2 separate regions of the Homo sapiens genome follow, and region 2 is linked to region 1. The links come from fine-mapping of genetic effects on plasma protein levels. A gene starts in region 1. The other region holds a variant in brackets. All regions are shown on one strand. Distances are between the middles of the regions. Region 1 holds the start of MRC1 (mannose receptor C-type 1). Region 2 overlaps MRC1 (mannose receptor C-type 1).

What was found. PIP is the posterior inclusion probability: the model's chance that the variant is causal. The UK Biobank Pharma Proteomics Project read protein levels with antibody pairs (Olink). The fine-mapping took linkage between variants from a reference panel, not from the people measured, so its PIPs are less certain.
Region 2: its variant is fine-mapped to the plasma level of the MRC1 protein (UK Biobank, PIP above 0.99).

What each region holds. Positions count from the first base shown.
Region 1 is chr10:17,803,064-17,812,948 of GRCh38, forward strand. MRC1 (mannose receptor C-type 1) reads left to right here and starts at 6,285. Exons shown (of 30, transcript NM_002438.4): 1 at 6,285-6,463. The coding sequence starts at 6,403.
Region 2 is chr10:17,846,502-17,856,386 of GRCh38, forward strand. It overlaps MRC1 (mannose receptor C-type 1), which reads left to right. Exons shown (of 30, transcript NM_002438.4): 7 at 3,078-3,263; 8 at 6,466-6,623; 9 at 9,741-9,851. Among named protein-coding and RNA genes, the nearest start is that of MIR511, 6.3 kb to the left of the region's middle. The variant G/A (reference allele first, on the strand shown) is at 1,113.

The DNA of each region.
Region 1 (9,885 bases):
ACACCATTTCTGAAGGGCTTACCAGTTTTATCTGTGAGAAATGATGTAACAGGTTATGAAAAATTTTGCCCAGCTATTTTTCTTGGAACTATTTCAGAGCAAAGCAGACACTAAGTTCATCATACGTGAAACTGAGTGGGTAGGAGGTGGCTGGTGTTTGAGAAAGTCTAGGAGGAAATGACACAGTTGATTGTCTTGCCAATAAAAAAATGAGAATTTCCTTTATATTTTAGCTTGAAGAAAGGACTAGTTAAAAATAACCACCATCATCAATAGCTAACCAAAATTCAGAACCAGAACTTAGTAGAAGGGTGTAGACAGGATGGCATGAGTTGGATTTTTAAAAAAGTTTGGTAAAGGATACATAACACAATTATTATTGTAGTCATTTCAACTGTACAATTCAATGGCTCTAAACATATTCACCATGTTGTTTAACTATCACCACTCTGTATTTCCAGAACTTTTCATCATCCAACATCCAATGGGCTCTGTGCCCATTAAACAATAACTCTCCATTCTCCTCCATCCTCCACCTCCCACCCCTTAGTAAACTCTCTTCTTCCTATGTCTCTGAATTTACCTATTCTATATACCTCACATAAGTGGAATCACATAATATTTGTCCGTTTATGTTTGGCTTATTTCACTTAGCAAAATGTTGAAAGGTTGTACATATAGCAGGTATCAGGATTCCTTTTTACGGCTCTATAATATCCCACTGTATGTTCATACCACATTTGTTTATCTGCTAACAGACACCTGAGTTGCTTCTACTTTTTGGCTATCATAAGTAAAACTTCTTTGAACATTGTTGTACAAATATGTGTTTGAGTCCCTAATTTCAGTTCTTCTGGGTATATACCTAGAAGTAGAATTGCTGGATCGTATGATAATTATAGTGTAACTTTGTGAGGCATTGCCAAGCTGTTTTCCGCAGTGGCTACACCATTTTACATTCCCGCCAGCAATGCCCGAGGGTTCCAATTTCTCATATTCTCACCATCACTTGTTATTTTCTGTTTTTTTAAAGTAATAATTCTTTTGGGTGTGAAATTCTATTTCATTGTAGTTTTGATTTACATTTCCCTAATGACTAATGATGTTGAGCATCTTTACATGTGCTTAGCTTATTGGCCACTTGTATATCTTCTTTGGAGAATTATCTGTTCAGGTCCACCGACCATTTTGTATTTGGTTTTGTTGTGGTTATTGAGTTGTAGTTGTTAATATATTCTGGATATTCATCCCTTAATCAGATATGTGATTTACAGATATTTTCTATTTTGTGCTGTCTTTTCACTTTCTAGATAGTGTACTTTGGTGGACACAGTTTTTAACTGTGATAAAGGCCTTTTTATCTACTTTTTTATTGCTTGTGTTTTTGGTATCCAATCCAAGAAATCATTGTCAAATCCAATGTTGTGAAGATTTTATTTCCTGACGTTTTCTTCTAAGAGTTTTATAGTTTTTAGCTCTTATGTTTAGGCATTTGATCCACTTTGGGTTAATTTTTGTATTTAATGTAAGGTAAGAGTCCAATTTCATTCTCTTTCCTGTGGATGGCCAGTTTTCCCAGCACAAATGCTGTTCTTTCCTCATTGAATGCTTTTGGCACCTTGTTGGAAATCAACTGCCCACATAGGTTTATTTCTGGCCTCTCTATTGTATTCCATTGGCCTATATGGCTATCCTTATGCCTGTACCACACTGTTTAGATTACTGTCATTTTGTAGTATGATTTGAAATCAGGAAGTGTGAATCGTTCAACTTCATTCTTTTTCAAAATTGTTTTGGCTGTGCAGACTCCCATGAAATTCCATATGAACTTTAGGATGGGGTTTTTCATTTCTGCAAAAAAAAAAAATCATTGGGATTTTGATAGGGATTGCATGAATCTATAGATTATATTGGATAATATTGACATCTTAACAATATCAAGTCTTCCATTTCATGAACACAGGGTATCTTTTCATTTATTTAGGTCTTTTTCTTTCAGCAACCATTTGTAGTTTTCAGTGGACAAGTCTTTTGTCTACGTAGTTAAATTTATTCCTAAGTATTTTGTTCTTTTTGATTCTATTGCAAATGGAATTTTCTTAATTTTATTTTCAGATTGTTCATTACAAGTGTATCAAAATTCAACTGATTTTTGTGTTTTGATTTTGTGTCCTGCAACTTTGTTAAATTTGTTAGTGCTACAGTTTGTGTGTGTGGTGTGTATGTGTGTGTGTGTGGCGTGTGTATGTATGTGTGTGTGGTGTGTGTGTGTGGTGTGTATGTGTCTATTGTGTATGTGTATGTGGTATTTGTGTGTGGTGTGTGTGTGTGTGTGTGTGTGTAAGCTTTAGGACTTCCTACATTTAAAATCAGGCCATCTGTGTACAGAGATAATTTCACTTCTTCCTTTTTAATTTGGATGCTTTTATTTATTTTTTTCTTTCCTACATGCTCTTATTAGAACTTCCAGTACTAAGTTGAAGAGAAGTGATGAAAGCAAATAAAAGCACCAATCAGAACACACAGTCCTGACATTTGGAGGGCTAAATCCTTGTTGCCCGGCCTGGCCTCACCTAGCTGCACTGGGCGTGTGGGCTGCTTCCCCCTTCACAGCTGCCTGACACAGCCATAACCACAGGGAGAAGCTGAAATTCGCTGAAATGTACCAGCCTCTTTATCAAGCTCTCCCTTGGATGCTCCAAGTTTCTGACTAGACTAGTTCCCAAATACAGATGGTCCTTGACTTAGGATTGTTAGACATAATGATTTACCCACTTTATGATGATGTGAAATAGAAATGGTGCATTCAGTAGAAAATGTATTTCGAATACCCATACACCCATTCTGCTTCTCACTTTTAGTACCATATCCAATAAATTACGAGATACTCAACACTGTATTATAAAATAGGTTTTGTTAGATGATTTTGAAATAGAAGAGTTCCCTTATGACCCTCGCAGGGGGTGCGACAGGAATGAGGCTTGCTCCTTTGGTGCCCTGCTGCTCAAACCCCTAGGGGGGAGCATGCAGCATGCAGATGGGCAGGTGCAGAGGCTGTGGGGAGTGCTTTTGGGCTCCACCCCACGGCAGCATCTAGGACTCCTGAAGCCCAAGTGGGCGTGTGTTACAGTGTGCTCTTTCAGCTATACCATCTGCAGACAGCTTGTGTTAGTCAGCTCAATAGACCCTCTGCCTTATCACAAGGACAGGGAGGCAGTGTGACAGCCTGAGTTCTTGCCCAGTGTACTGGAAGAATCAGATCACATGTGGGCTGGAGGGTTGAGTGCAAGGTTTTATTGAGTGGTGTAGGTGGCTCTCAGCGAGATGGATGGGGAACTGGAAGTGGGGAGTGGAGTGGGAAGGTGGTCTTCCCCTGGAGCCAGGCTGCCTAACCCCCCAGACTATTCTCCAACCACTGCTGGCCAAACTCCCCTTGGTGTCCAGATGTCCTTCTTCTCTCTTTCTCTGCTGCGCCACCCCACTGCTCTCCACTGCTCTATTCCTTCACTCTTCTCAATGTTTAGCGCTTGTGTCTATGCCCATTAAGGTCTCAGGTTTTTATGGGCACAGGATGCGGGGTGTGGTGAATCATAGTGGTCTTGGAAATGTAACATTTGCGCATGAAAACAGGAGTGCCTGTTCCCACTTAGGTCCGTGGGCACAGGTCCGAGGGTGGAGCCCTCGCCAGGGATCCTGCCCTTCTCTACCTAGCACTTCTCTGCCTCCTGTCCCTATCAATTTTGCCCAGTTGGAAGCTAATGTAAGTGTTCTCAACACGTTTAAGGTAGGCTACGCTGAGCCGTGATGTTTGGTAGGTCAGGTGTATTAAGTGCATTTTTGACTTAGCATATTTCAACTCACATTGGGTTTAACAGGGCCTAATTTGATCATGAGTAGAGGAGCACCTGCAGTTACTTCAGTCAGTTCCTGTCCATTTGATGGCTGCTTAGATGGAGGGATGAATTCCTGGAGTTTCCCACACCACCATCTTCTGTGACATCCCTTCCCCAAGATTTGGATTTATTTTTTGCCCCAGTGGCCTCTTGTAGCCTGATAAATCTTTGTTTCAACGAGGTCAAGGTCATGGGGTAAATTCTTTGTGGGGTGGTTGGCTGCATTTTGTTTAAACTTCACAGATTTTAGTACTGATCCTAATTTTTAATTTTACTAATGTGATATACACACTTATGTAATTAAAAAACAAACCCTGGGCCAGGTATGGTGGCACACGTCTGTAATCCCAGCACTTTCAGAGGCCAAGGCGGGCGGATCACTTGAGGTCAGGGGTTTGAGACCAGCCTGGCCAACATGGTGAAACCCCGTCTATACTAAAAATGCAAAAAATAGCTGGGCATCATGGCACGCGCCTGTAATCCCAGCCACTTGGGAGGCTGAGGTAGGAGAATCGCTTGAACCCGGGAGGTGGAGGTTGCAGTGAGCCCAGATTGCACCACTGCACTCCAGCCTGGGCGACAGAGCAAGACTCTGTCTCAAAGAAACAAACCAACCCTGAATGTGATTATATACATAATTCAATTAAATGTATTTGCTTCTGAAATATATATAAATGTAAATTAGGCAGTCACTTTTGTATATGATTTATTTATATTTGAAAGCCACAAATGACCCATTTAAACTATTATTTTCATAAGCCAGTGAAACAATGTCTGAGAAACATTTTTGTTTTGTCTGTTCTGTTCTATAACCATCATTTTTTTTTTCAGTCATGTACAGCCTTAGTGACAAAGAAACTTTGGTCCTCTGTCCTACATTTTCACTATCTTTTTCCCTCCGGTCAGGATAATCTCAAATTTACATGTTAAAAACAATCAGTAAGAGAACTACATCACATTTCTAATAGGATGGAAACTTTTCAACTTTATCACAAAGACAACGAATGTGGAGGCTTTCCGTTTGAAGATAAAACTATTCATTTAAAAAATTTTAAAAATTACAATGTTTCCAGTAGCTTCTTTTTGAATTACTAACATATTCCACACTCTAGTAACGGTTTGGCCAGCTAATCGTTAGTTTCTGCTTTAAAATGTTCTAAATTCCTGTTCTACTTTTGAAAAATGACAACATAAATGTTTGGAGGGTTATTTTCTGCTTAATGAAAGATCTAGAAACATATTTTATTCTAAGAAAGAATTCCACTTGCCTTTAAATAAAGATATACCTTTTGACCAAACAATCAGATTTTCTTTTTCTTTTTTTTCTTTTCTTTTTTTTTTTTGAGATGGAGTTTCGCGTCTGTCGCCCAGGCTGGAGTGTAGTGGTGCGATCCTGACTCACTGTAACTTCCACTTCCCAGGTTCAAACGATTCTGTTGCCTCAGCCTCCTGAGTAGCTGGGCTTACAGGTGTGCATGATCACACCCGGCTAACTTTTGTATTTTTAGTAGAGACGGGTTTTTGCCATGTTGACCAGGCTGGTTTCAAACTCCTGACCTCGGGTGATCTGACTGCCTCGGCCTCCCAAACTGCTGGGATTGCAGGCGTGAGCCATTGTGCCTGGCCAGATTTTCTTTTTCTAGCAAGGGGACCCACTTAAACTTGAAGAGGACCGGGATGGTTGAGGCTGGGCAGCAAGGCTTTACTGCAAATCCTTTACCACTGTTTTTTCTGGCTTTCTAGAGAACGTTCTAGCAAAAGGTTTCTAGAACTTTCTCCTTCCTGGCCTGACTGACATTCCCTCTTAGGTGTAGCCTCCTTTTCACTTTTCTTCTGCCTGGAGGAAATGAAGCTCCACGGAACTTTCTGTTGAAACTTTCCAAGAAAAAAAAGAAAGGCTCTAAGCACTGAATGTGGAAACTGAAGGGGATGAGCTTCAACTCTGAAGTGTTTCCAGCGTAAAACTGTCCTTTCCAGGGCCCGTGTGGCTGTCACTTCAGAGTGGAGGTTGTCTGCTGAGGGACCCCTGACTCAGCTGCTTCCCAGGGGAAGCTCCGTCTTCCGGCACAGGTAATGGCCTGCAGCTTGATCTCCACCCAGCCCCATCTGAGCAGGCCGGGAGCTCCCAGGCTGTTTCACTTCTCTCCTTCCTGACTCCTCACCATCACCATCGCCCTCTCTCCTCCCCACCCCGCCACTCCTCTCCCACACGTGTCCCTTTCTCCCCTTCCTCTGCGTCTGCTCTTCTCAGAAGTTAGCTTACGAAGCAAAGTTGTTACTTTGAATTCCTGTTTTTCCAGCCACCCTCATGTGACAGGATGTCTCCTCAGTAGAGGCTTTCCCTAAATTCAGGAGCCCTTTAAAAGGGAGGGCTTCCTCTGTAGTTCTTTTCAGCTGGGCAGCTCTGGGAACTTGGATTAGGTGGAGAGGCAGTTGGGGGGCCTCGTTGTTTTGCGTCTTAGTTCCGCCCTCCTGTCCATCAGGAGAAGGAAAGGATAAACCCTGGGCCATGAGGCTACCCCTGCTCCTGGTTTTTGCCTCTGTCATTCCGGGTGCTGTTCTCCTACTGGGTAAGTCTGCTCTGAGGCAGGGGATCTCTGACCTGGGGGGCCGGAACCACACCTTCCTCTTCTGGGTTACTGTGAATGGGTTCCTTTCAACATCTTTGTGAGGAGGAAACGGGGTTCCCCTGCACCACGCAGTCCACGGCTAAGCCTGCTGCCTTCACCTGGCGGCCAGGCATGGGAGGCCTGGAGTTGGAGGAGGGAGGAGGATGCGTCTCAGGTCTCGGTTGCTGCCCTGCCGGGAACCCTACAGACCTTCAGTGTCCTCCTGACTTCTCTCATCGCTCGTTGTTCCTTCCCTGTTTTCTTCGTGCAGAAATTTCCTGCTCTGTGGTTTACTCTTTCTGGTTTTCAATTCACACTATTTCTGTCTCACCGCCAACAAACACCTTCTGAGTGTCTCTGGCTGGAAGGAGGGCAGCCCTGATGTCTCCCCGCGTCTTAGGTCCGAGGGTATCATCGCAGATCATCCCCCCAAAAGAGATTCTAAGCAATTTCCATACTCATTTTTTTTTCTGCCAGAATCATTCAGACACTTGATTGTTAGAAAGTTCATCCTTATCTGTATTCTAGACTATTCAAACTGCCGCATAAGCAGATCGATTCCTGTTTTTCTTCTTTTTCTGGAGATTAGAGATTACTCATTAGGAACAGCTCCAGAGTTGTTCAAATTCTCAAATACCTTTTCCAGTCTGTCTTTTCTATTTCTCTATACTCAGTTGCTTAAACTTCAGGATGGGAGTGCCTCGGGGGATTTTCATTCCTGGTTCTATTTGGAGATGATTTAGAAGAGATTTCAAATTTGATTTTTTGATTTCTGATCCCCCTTTAATTCTATGAAATCAACAAACACTTGCAGAGAATGGTTTGTGCCTACGATCTACTCTATGCACTGATGTGAAGGCGGGTGGGAAGTTTCCTAGGAAGAGAGTGTTTTAGTACCGCAAATGTTAAATCATAAGTATTGAGTGGTAGTGATTACAAAAACACAAGTGAAGGCGGTATGGTTTACATCCTGTCTCTCTCACTCACTAGCTTTGCGACCTTGGGCAGGCTACTTTATTTCTTTGTGCTTTAGTTTCCATGTCTATAAAATGGAAAGAATAATATTACCTGCCCCCATCAGTTCTTGTGATGATTCAATGAGTAACAATATGTGAAATGTTTAGAACAGAGTATGACCCATAGTAAGTGCCTTATAAGTGTTAGCTATTAAAATCAGTGGCAGAAAAGAAGTACATAAAAGGCCAAATAAAAAGGATAGATGAAATTAATTTTATTTTTATTTTTGAGACAGATTCTCATTTTGTTGCCCAGGCTGCAGTGCAGTGGCATGATCTTGGCTCACTGCAACCTCTACTTCCTGGGTTCGAGTGATTCTCCTGCCTCGGCCTCCCAAGTAGCTGGGATTACAGGCATGCACCACCATGCCCAGCTGATTTTTGTAGTTTTAGTAGAGACAACGTTTCACCATGTTGGCCAGGCTGGCCTCGAACTCCTGACCTCAAGTGATCTGCCCTCCTCAGCCTCCCAAAGTGCTGGGATTATAGGCATGAGCCACAGCGCCCAGCCCTGATATTATTAATGTATTTTATTTCACCCAGTAACTCGGAAATATTATCCCTCAACATTTAATCGATTTGGAATATTTTCCCATTCATTTCTTAAAACTAACTCTTCAAAATCTGGTGAGTATTGCATACTTATAGCATGTCTCAATTCACAGTAGTGTCATTTTAAGTGTACAATGGTTACATGAGGTGACTGGCTATCATACTGGGCAGCACAGACACAGTGCCTAATTTTCTTTAAACTGACTCAATAATGCTTTGAGCAATAGTGTTTCTCGGTTTGCTCAGGAGTGTTTCCCTCTTCCTGACAGCAGGATGCCCTCCTCTGACTAATGTCTTCCTCTTCATAGGCACAAATATTGGGGAGAGAAGGGGGATGCTGAAGATCTGTTTACTTGGAGAATAAACAAACAAAAAATTCAAGGGACCCCCCTTCCAGATTTTTTTTTCCTACGTGAAAGCCTGTAATTTGTGTTGTTTTGTTTTTTGAGACTGGTTTCACTCTGTCACCCAGGCTGGAGTGCAGTGGTGTGATCATGGCTCACTGCAGCCTTGACATCTGGGCTCATGCAATCCTCCCACCTTGGCCCACTCCCAACTCCCCAGTAGCTGGGACTTTGGGCTTGAGCCACTATGCCAGGCTAATTTTTAATTTTTTTTATTTTTTTTTATTTTTGTAGAGATGGGGTCTCACTATCTTGCTCAGGCCGATCTCAAACTTCTGGGCTCTGGTGATCCTCCCACTTTGGCCTCCCATAGTGCAGGATGATAGATGTGAGCCACTGCACCCAGCCTGTAACTTTTATTTTATCTTTTCTTGGCCCGAGAAGCATGTGATTGGAGGAATTTGTGTAAAGGCAGGGCACCTGCTTAGTTAGCAGCAGGTTAAACTATGCGAAGCCCCAACACCTCTCCCCTGGCTTCCTGCCCACTAGGAAAACCCATGGGAAGGTCTCCCTACTTGCCATCAGTTTATTTCTTTTCAATCCACACCCCTTCCTTCCACCTTCAGGAGAGCATCCCACAGCATTAGCACCATAAGTCTCTGTGGGCTGCTGCCAACGGATGGGCTGGTTCTCCCTGGAGGGGTCCAGGAGTCTAGAGGTTAACAGGGCTAGACGCTCACCTTTCCTACTGTTGTTCTTGCCGCACTATCTTTTTAGCACTCAGCAGCAAGGTTTCCAGCTCAGTTGGGTTATAATCATGGTAGATGCACCATGAGAGCCGGTGGGACACAGAGGTTAGACCACAGCAAAGAAGTTTAACTTGGAAATGGGAGGGTTTGGCTCACAGGTAGTGGTGTATTGGCAAACAACTACTGGTTCCAAGAAGGAAAAGAAAGGAAGCACTGATTTGACTTATGCTGTTTTGCTGTTTACTGATGTCCATGCTGTAAATATTCCCACCATGGTTGATTTCAAGCTACTGACTTGATGCCCCTGGGGGCAGAGTTGGGAAGAGATGCCAACAGTAGGCTTTTTTTTTTTTTTTTTTTTTTGAGATGGAGTCTCTCTCTGTCACCCAGCCTTGAGTGCAATGGTGTGATCTTGGCTCACTGCAACCTCTGCCTCGTGGGTTCAAGCAATTCTCCTGCCTCAGCCTCCCGAGTAGCTGGGATTACAGGCACCCGCCACCACACCCGGCTAATTTTTTCTATTTTTAGTAGAGATGGGGTTTCACCATGTTGGCCAGGCTGGTCTTGAACTCCTGACCTCGTGATCTGCCCACCTTAGCCTCCCAAAGTGCTGACATTACAGGCATGAGCCACCACACCTGGCCAACAATAGGCTCTTGCTAGCTGCTGCTATTGGTCCCAGGGCAATATGGAGCCTTTCTAGGCTCTGGGAAGGCGCTCAA
Region 2 (9,885 bases), 43 kb after region 1:
TAGCTAGAGATTCAAAAGATACAACATGATAAATAATAAGGTTTTCCCTACCTCTCACCTGTAACACCCAGTTTACCTTCCTGGAGAATAATTGTTTCTGGGTGTGTATCCTTAGTTATTCTGTGACTATATAAACAAATATATTTATAATTATTTTTGTTTCATACAAATGGCAGTATACTATAATATGTTTTTATCCTAAGTTTTCCACTTAACAACAATTTTGGACATCATTCCACGTAGAATATAAACAGCTTCTATGTTTAATTTTATGGCTGTCCAAAAGCTATTGCAGAGACAGCACATATATTTTTTTGACCGATCTCCTGTGTAATGGATTTTTAATTTAATTTACTTCCAATCTTTTATTAATACAAACAGTCCTGAGGTAAATAACTATATACATTCTATGCACATCATTTCATGCATGTGATCATTCCTGGAAGTGGAATTGTTGGATTAGGGAGGAGATGTGTTTGCAATTTTAATTGATATAGATTTGGCCAAGATCCTAAATAGATATAGATGCGGGACCTGGATGTTGGGTTTGATTATCCTTTACAGGCTCTCCATAGTGACGGTGGGTATCTTTAGAGAAAGCTCACCATTTTTGCATTTTACCTCTACTATTCCTCCTCTAGGAGAAATAGTGTATTTTTTCCTTTTTTGGAAGCCTTCATTACAATTCTCTTTCTAAGACTTGGAATTTCCATGTTGCCAAAGAGGAGAATAGTTACTTTATAGTTTCTCTGGTACAGCACTCAGAATTCTGTAACTTGGCCTTACTGCTTAACCTGCCGGTGCTGGGATCCTCATGTGTAAAATGGAAATGTTCATGACTCTTCTTCCTGAGATAAAATTTTGTTCATTTCATCAAACACTCAGTACATTCTTATTCCTCCATGATGCCTTCTTCACTCGCTAACCACTTGATGTCAGTTTCTGAACATCTCTATACTCCCTGGATTAATGATTCTGTTTTATCTATAAACTCAAATAAACCAGAGCTTGGAAAAGCGTATCAGAGTTCAAATTATGCAGCATACGGGATTAGCAACAGCCTTAGGCAAGAATTCAACCTCAAACCCTGTGAATTATTGTAACACTAACCC[G/A]TTTGTCCATAATCCTCAGGTCTCTAGGGCTGTACTCTCTGGCTTAGCAGCCACTTAACCGCATGTGGCCACTGAGCACATGAGCTGTGGCTAGAGGAACAAATCATCTTCTGTGGCTGCCCCAGGGAACTCCCCTTCATTTCACTCAAGTTGGTTGTTTTCATGCTTTCAAATATGTTTAAAGTTCATCATTTCAGTTTTTGAAGGACAGCATTGGCTGATACTATTTTCAATTTCCTAGGTAGCAAAATTAAAATAACCCACCAGAGGGCTCCAAAGCTGTACTAAGCTTGCTTTCTTTTTCTTTTTCTTCTTTTTTTTTTTGTAACCACTGGAAGTGCACAGAATCTAAATTGTATTGAGGGAATAGAATTTTTTTAAATATGCATTTTTTATTACAATTGTACAGCATTTGAGCCTCATGACTGAGTAGTTACTTGTATGACTGCAGGGCACAAAATCCTGGGCTTAAACAATGATGTTTCAGATACTCTCCACCTTTAAGGGAAGATACGACCAATTCATCAAAGGAATAGTGAAGAAAGGTACCCTATAACGAACATATACTAAGACAGCCATTTGAAAACATTTAATATGAGCTTAAATAATATATACGTTCACTTTCATTTGGCAATATAGTCCCCTTCTAAGCAAAACATGTTGCCAAATTACTGTTTGAAATAGTATCTCTAGAATAGTAATAACAAGCAGCCATATATCAACTATAACTTCAATTCTTTTTCTCTTCCAATACTCAATACGCTTATATGTACCAGGCCCTGTGCCAGGCTCAAGGCAATAGGGATGAATAAACATCTGCCTTCAAATGTCTTTATTGTCACTTTCCCCTAGCTCATTACTATTAAATTTTTGCAGCGTATAATCAAGATTATACAATTTGATCCTATTAGTAGCGAGGCTGAGGATGTTGACAGCTGGTTTAATTAAATAATGATTGTGTGGTGCTTGTGATTTACAAGCACACTCTCTCTATTCTTTTCTAGTTCAGAAGAACATGGGGTGGGTGGTTTGATATTAGTGTTAGTACTAATCTCATTTAAAAATTTTCACCTATATGGGTACTCCTTTTCATGTGATGTGACTTGCCGAAGATCACACAACTTACCGCAAATTCAGGTTTTAGGAGTTATGACTCCAGATCCCTCTCCTAGTCACAAGCACGTGTCAGTTTTGGGTAGCAACTAAATGGTAGTGGGTCTGTTCTGAGGCAACAAGTGGCTGACTCATGTGGCTATGGTGGCGGAGGCTCCTTGGAGACCGTTTGTCCCCCAGCCATTCCAGCTCTCTACTTCAACACTAACCTGCCTCTCAAGAGTGACTGGCTCCCTAATGTCCATAGAATAAAGTAAATTCAAATCTTTTAGGGGATGTGTTTAGTCCCCCAAAGCTTTCAGGCCTCCAGCATTTAAACAGTGCATAACAGATGCTTAGTTCAGGTTTGCTGACAAGATTTAGATAATCTAATATGTATTAGTATAGTCTTGTTGTAGATATAACTTTTTAAAAAGAGATTTCCCATAGCCAAGTACAGTGGCTTATGCCCTGTAGTAGCAGCTACTTAGGAGGCTGAGGCAGGAGGACTGCTTGAGCCCAGGAGGTTGAGGCTGCAATGAGACATGATCACACCACCGCACTCTGGCCTGGGGAATAGAGGGAGACCTTGTCTCTTAAAAAAAAAAAAAAAAGAAAGAAAGAAAGTTGATAAGGTGATTTCCCATTTGATTAAAAAGTAGGTTATTTTGTTTTGTCTAAAAACCAACAAAATAGTATATGCCTTGTCTATTTTTGGTGAATATGTATGCTGCGAAAATAAAAACTAAATGTTACCTTTATTTGCCTAGTAACTATAAGCTGTTTCATGTATTATATAAAATGATTAAAATATTGTTATAGTTTTAATCAAATCTTTTAAAATTTTTTTCCGACCCCCCTTTTTGTTTCTAGAAAGTGATGTGCCTACTCACTGTCCTAGTCAGTGGTGGCCGTATGCCGGTCACTGTTACAAGATTCACAGAGATGAGAAAAAAATCCAGAGGGATGCTCTGACCACCTGCAGGAAGGAAGGCGGTGACCTCACAAGTATCCACACCATCGAGGAATTGGACTTTATTATCTCCCAGCTAGGATATGGTGAGAAACTTGACAGTGATAATATACTTGGCTTTAATCCTGGGAGCACCCCTTTCTACCCAACTCTGGAAAATTCTATCATAAACATCAAATTTAATCAATGTAAATCAATAATTCAACGAACAACGTATGAATTTAATCACAAATGCTGAAAATGCCACAATGTGAAAATTGTATAATAATTGAAAGAATTCTTATCACTGAAAGATAATTCAATTTCTTTTTCTTTTAATGTGTAATCCATTTATGGGTAGTTTTAAAACATTATTTTTTTCATGCATTATCTGGATGCAGAGCAGTCTACCTTACACTTGTGAACAATGCTTAATTCCTTGGAATTATCTGTGTGTGTGTGTGTATCTTCTTTTTTTAGGTCCATATTTTATCTCCTAAAAAAGATTTCTAAATGGACTGTTTCAGACTTTAGATTTCTTTTTTCTTTGTGAATTTAGCTGATGCTGGGAGGGTGTTGAACAGTGAAAAATATAGGAGTTTTTTTTTTTTTGAAATGGTTAGATGTCAGCCTAAACCTTTTAAAGGAATATATTTCTTGGCCAAGCTACGGTGGCTCATGCCTGTAATCCCACCACTTTGGGAGGCCAAGGTGGGAAGGATAGCTTGAGCCCAGGAGTTTGAGGCCAGTCCAGGGAACATAGCAAGACCTCGTCTCTACTAAAAAAAATTTTTTTTAAAGAAATGTATGTCTCAATTTTAGGTGCATAATTAAAAATACACAGAAAATGTACTAAGCAGAAAAAAATAGATGAATAAAATGAGCTGGGAATGCTTGTCCCGAAGATGAGCGGCTTGAGAAACAGCATAATGATAATGGGCACTCAGCAGTGCTTGTTGATTAAATGATGATCATTTTCATCTTCCACTGATGAGGCTGCTGAATAGCTGCAGCTGCTCTTCATTTCCCCCCAGCAAAACAAGAGGAAATGGATGGTGGAGATGGTGGAGACAGCTTCCTGACACATAGTGCCTGGAAACTGATTGGGGCTGGGGGAGGGGAGGAAAAAGCAACTAACAAATAGATGAGAAACAAATAGAGTAGTAGCAGAAAAAGACTTAAAAGTCCCCGAAACACTCCTACTTCTAGCACCTGCCAAATGGTATCCATCTTCCTGTGTTGACCCCATTGAGTGTCTTAGGCCACGAGAATAGCCCAGCTGCAGCCTATGAACAATTTCTTGGTTATTCTGTGTCTACTTATCCTGGAAAATTCACAATAGAAGATAATAATGGAATCAGAACTGGTATGTCTGAATAACAATTACTTAAATTTAGTGTGGCACTTATAGCCAGTAAAGTTTGCAAATGATTTAGCAGAAAACAGGTTAGTTAGGATGCTCTAGAACTGGAGTGCACATTTAACTCTACTTTGTATAACATAATGTAGTGAAAGAAAAAAACCTGATATTTTTATTGCTATAATTATTTTAGGAAATTGGATGGCCAAAGTTGCTTTGAAATTCAGCATGAGAATTAGTAAATAAATTAGAAAACCTTCCATTAAAAATTATTGATAAGATTTTATTTTAAACAATAAAATAATATTAATAAAAGTAAAGTTGTAAAGTTAAAATTATTGTTTCTAAACAAAAACCTAGAAATTTTTTTTTACATAATTGAGATGATACCTTTTGTATTAATCATGGAAGTATATTTCAAGTGGACACATTAAGACCTATACACGTAAGTTATGATTATACCAATGAATACAACTTCCCCAACTAATTGATAAAAATCAGCATGACAACTTTACACTCACATCTTATATATTTTTCTAGGATCAAGATTGTGCTTAGGAATTGAAGAAGCTATGGGGGAGAACAATTTAGTGAGAAATATGTATATAGGAAACTCTTAACTGTGGGACTTAGGAGGTTAGTTTTTCTTTGATCTTCAATTTAAATCTTTGAGGGGTACATGAGGTCACTTTGAAGCCTGCATTTGTTGCTGAAAAGATCACGATCTGCAAATCAAGTGAAAGGAGAAGAGGATCATCCTGGCAGTGTCATTCATTCTCCACGGCACTGGAAACATCTGCCAGTGCTGGCGCCAGGCCAGCTAGAGACTTCTCCAAAAGCAAAGTTGAATGACAACTTTCAGGAGGAAGAGACTAAACCGCTTAGGGAGAATCTTATACATTGTGATGTTTTCCTCATTTTCTACCACAACATCATCTTTACAATACTTTGGCAACTAATTTTATTATACCACTAAATGATCATACATCAAGCATTCATGATGGGACTCCCAGTCGTGTGAATTAGATAGATATTGATTTGTGTATTCTTTAACTTTTTTTAATTTAGACAAGTTTATTTTTTAGCCATGACATCTTAAACCTTCATTGACTTTAACTTTATCCCATTTTTGTTGTGATATTTAGGAATTTTTAGCATGGCACCTACTTATAAAATCAATAATGTTCTCCATAGAATTTCAAAACAAAATGATCATGTTTTAAATCTATATTGGTTGTTTTCGTTTTACCCTCATTTGTTATTTAAGTTTTGCTGGAATTTCCTGGCATTTCATGATGAAAATGATTACAGATTCATTTGTATATACAGCATAATAGATAGGTACCAAATGTCAGGTGCAAGTCTCACCTCTTGGTTTATAATTCTTTCACTATATAGATAATTTTCACTCCCAGTACAGTGATTGATCTTTAACGGAAGTATCTAGAATGTTCTTGATAACAAGAGTCAGTAAAATAGAAGCAGTTTAAAATTTTTGTTATTTGAAAACATTCATCAATTTAATCATAGTCAAACAGATGTATATAAATAGGCTACCATCAATAACATGAGTGCAGTTGGCATGGTAAATTATTTGCAACAATAAAAGCAGCTTCATAAGATAGAGCATAGTAATAGACCTACCTCAATTTTGTTTTTGTAACTGCCAGGAGATACAATCTACAATATTTCCACTAAAGAATACAGTCATATTCACAATGTAAAGGGTACACTACACAGCCTAAAACTAACAAGGTAAAATGTAGTTGGCATCTAAGTCGACAGCATGTAGGTCAGATGAGCACTCATGAGGACTATCTTTCATGATGGTGATCATATCAAGGGAGGTAGAGCCCTGTTGATAAAGCAGAGTGCCTTCCGTTCCTTTTACCCCCCGACCTTTGGAAAGCAACCCTTGTATATACCACTGTGTGTTTCTTCCTGTTTAGAGCCAAATGACGAATTGTGGATCGGCTTAAATGACATTAAGATTCAAATGTACTTTGAGTGGAGTGATGGGACCCCTGTAACGTTTACCAAATGGCTTCGTGGAGAACCAAGCCATGAAAACAACAGACAGGAGGATTGTGTGGTGATGAAAGGCAAGGTAAGGCCACTTGAATGACTGATATTTATAATGAAAGTCACGGGGGATTTTTCCTTCTGTCCCAGTCAGTTACATATGTTTGTTTAGATTGTTTTTATTCTACATAAATTGGCATGGATCAAAGGTGAACCAAAATTCAGATTTGATTTCTTGAATCCCTCTCAACTGTCTAGCAAAGTCAAATTTTCAAGAGGATCACTGAAGCAATGGACAGAAACTTTTGGGTCAAGGATGAAATTCGCCTGTAATGAATACTCATATTGTTTCTATGGCACTATATATGTACATGGCCATATATATAGTGCCATATTATAATGGTGTATATATATATCCACCAAAGCTCTCATCTGACCAATTAAGCCATATATATGATTATGCATGTATATATAAAAAGTTATTATAAGCCATATATATGATTACAAGAGATGTAAAAAGAGATATATATGTATGTGTGTGTGTGTGTGTGTGTGTGTGTGTATATATATATATATGTAAAAAGAGATTGTAGCCCCGTATATATGTGAGAGATATATATACACCAAGTAGATGCAGATCTACTTACAGCTACGGTGGATTAGGTCTGGAAGCTGTACTTGGGGAGCTACATTCATTTTTTTCAGTTTACATGGAGCTGTCATATGAAATGATTGCTTTTATGATTGAAATATGACCTCAGTGATTGAAAAATGTTATCAAATTTATCTTTTATTAATAGATGGTAAACACAGTGATTAAGAGGCTGAGTTTTGCTGTGTGACTGACTCCTTTATTTGCAAAATGGGAATAAGAGCTGTACTTAGCTCACCTGTGGATATGAGGTTTTTTTTTTTGTTGTTGTTGTTGTTTGTTTGTTTGTTTTTTAAGACAGAGTCTTGCTCTGTCACCCAGGCTGCAGTGCAGTGGTGCAATCTCAGCTCATTGCAGTCTTGACCTCCTGGGTTCAGGCCTCCCAAATAGCTGTGACTAAAGGTGCGTGCCACCACGCCTGGCTAATTTTTTGTATTTTTGGTACAGATGGAGTTTTGCCATGTTGCCCAAGCTAGTCTTGAACTCCTAAGCTCAAGCGATCTGCCTGCCTCAGCCTCCCAAAGTGTTGAGGTTACAGGCGTGAGCCACTGTGCCAGGCCCAGGATATGAGTATTAAATAATGCATGTGTGGTACACAGTTCCCAGCCCATATTTATTGTTCAATAATTTTTGTCATTGTGGTTGTTTATTTTTGTCACTGTGGCTGTTATTTTTGTCATTGTGGTTGTTTTTATTGTGATGGATTGAAAGTTTAAGAACATATTAGGTGTTAACTATCCAAAGAGTAGACAGAAGAAACCAGAAAGCAGCATGCTTGGAGGAGGTGAAAGGTCAGTGTGGTTGAAATCATGAAGTCAGAGCCGGAAGGGTGGGTAGGAACTGAGGTTCAAGAAACATGAGTTGTCTCGGAGGGGTAAAACCAAAGTGGCAATTTATAAATGTTACTCTGGCTAAAGGCTTACGTGTCAGATTGCACTGGGCTGAGACCAACTAGGATATGAGGAGTTAAAGACAGACAATACAGAAAACATTTTATTTATTTATTTATTTATTGAGACAGAGTTTTGCTCTTGCTGCCCAGGCTGGAGTGCAATGGCACAATCTTGGCTCAATGCAACCTCTGCCTCGAGAGTTCAAGCGATTCTCCTGCCTCAGCCTCCCGAGTAGCTGAGATTACAAGCGTGCACCACCACATCCAGCTAACTTTTTTGTATTATTAGTAGAGACAGGGTTTCACCATGTTGGCCCGGCTAGTCTTGAACTCCTGACCTCAGGTGATCCACCCGCCTTGGCCTCCCAAAGTGCTGGGATTATAGGCGTGAGCCGCCGCGCTTGGCCCAGAAAACATTTTTTTCAAGATGTTTAGCAGCGAAGGGAAGGAAAGGAGAGGTCCTTTTAACATGAAATCTCAAAGGAAAAGAGAGGGGATAGAATCTGAAATAAAGTGGAAGGTTGAGCCTCAGATCCAGGGGAGCACTCATCAGTAGAAATAGGAAGAAGGCAGAAAAGATGACTGTGGTTTCATGATGCTTTCAAGTTGGTGTGTTGGGTGCAGGAGATTTTTCTGGATGGCGTATATGAACTTGATTAATTTGAAGACAGAGCTGACTGCAGGGATTGATGAAGACGCTGCATGCGGCCGGGCCCAGTGGCTCACGCCTGTGATCCCAGCACTTTGGGAGGCCGAGGCAGGCGGATCATGAGGTCGGGAGATCGAGACCATCCTGGCTAACACGGTGAAACCCCGTCTCTACTAAAAATATAAAAAATTAGCAGGGCGTGGTGGCAGGCGCCTGTAGTCCCAGCTACTCAGGAGGCTGAGGCAGGAAAATGGTGTGAACCTGGGAGGTGGAGCTTGCAGTGAGCCAAGATCAGAGCCACTGCACTCCAGCCTGGGCAACAGAGCGAGACTCCGTCTCAAAAAAAAAAAAAAAAAAAAAAAAAAGAGGCTGCATGCAAACCTCTTGCGAGCACCGTCATCCAAGGACTTACAGACATTTTTAATTTCTCCCTGGATTCCTCTAAACAATGGCTTGGACATCTCAGATATAAAATCATATTGCGGCTCCAATCACTTTTTACATGTTTGTAGCTAGAGTCAAAATTACTGTTTACATATGAACATGTCAATTACCTTTCCTTTCAGTAGATGCCGTTTTCTCTCAATAACCTTGGATCTTAATTTTCCTCCTCTGAGGCACAGTTACAAGAAAATAACATCAAAGTCCAAAATTGGCCGGGCGCAGTGGCTCATGCCTGTAATCCCAGCACTTTGGGAGGCCAAGGTGGGTGGATCGCCTGAGGTCAGGAGTTCAAGACCAGCCTGGCCAACATGGTGAAACCCCATCTCTACTAAAAATACAAAAAATTAGCAGAGCTTGGTGGTGGGTTCCTGTAATCCTAGCTACTAGGGGGGCTGAGGCAGGAGAATCACTTGAACCTGGGAGGCAGAGGTTGCCATGAGCCAAGATCGCGCCACTGCACTCCAGCCTGGGGGACAGAGTGAGACACTGTCTCAAAAAAAAAAAAAAAAAAAAGGTCCCCAAACTGATAATCCTTTATTTTTTTCTCTCTCTCTGCTCCCTGCAGGATGGGTACTGGGCAGATCGGGGCTGTGAGTGGCCTCTTGGCTACATCTGCAAGATGAAATCACGAAGCCAAGGTCCAGAAATAGTGGAAGTCGAAAAAGGCTGCAGGAAAGTGAGTGCACCATGCCCACAGTGACTTAAGCTGA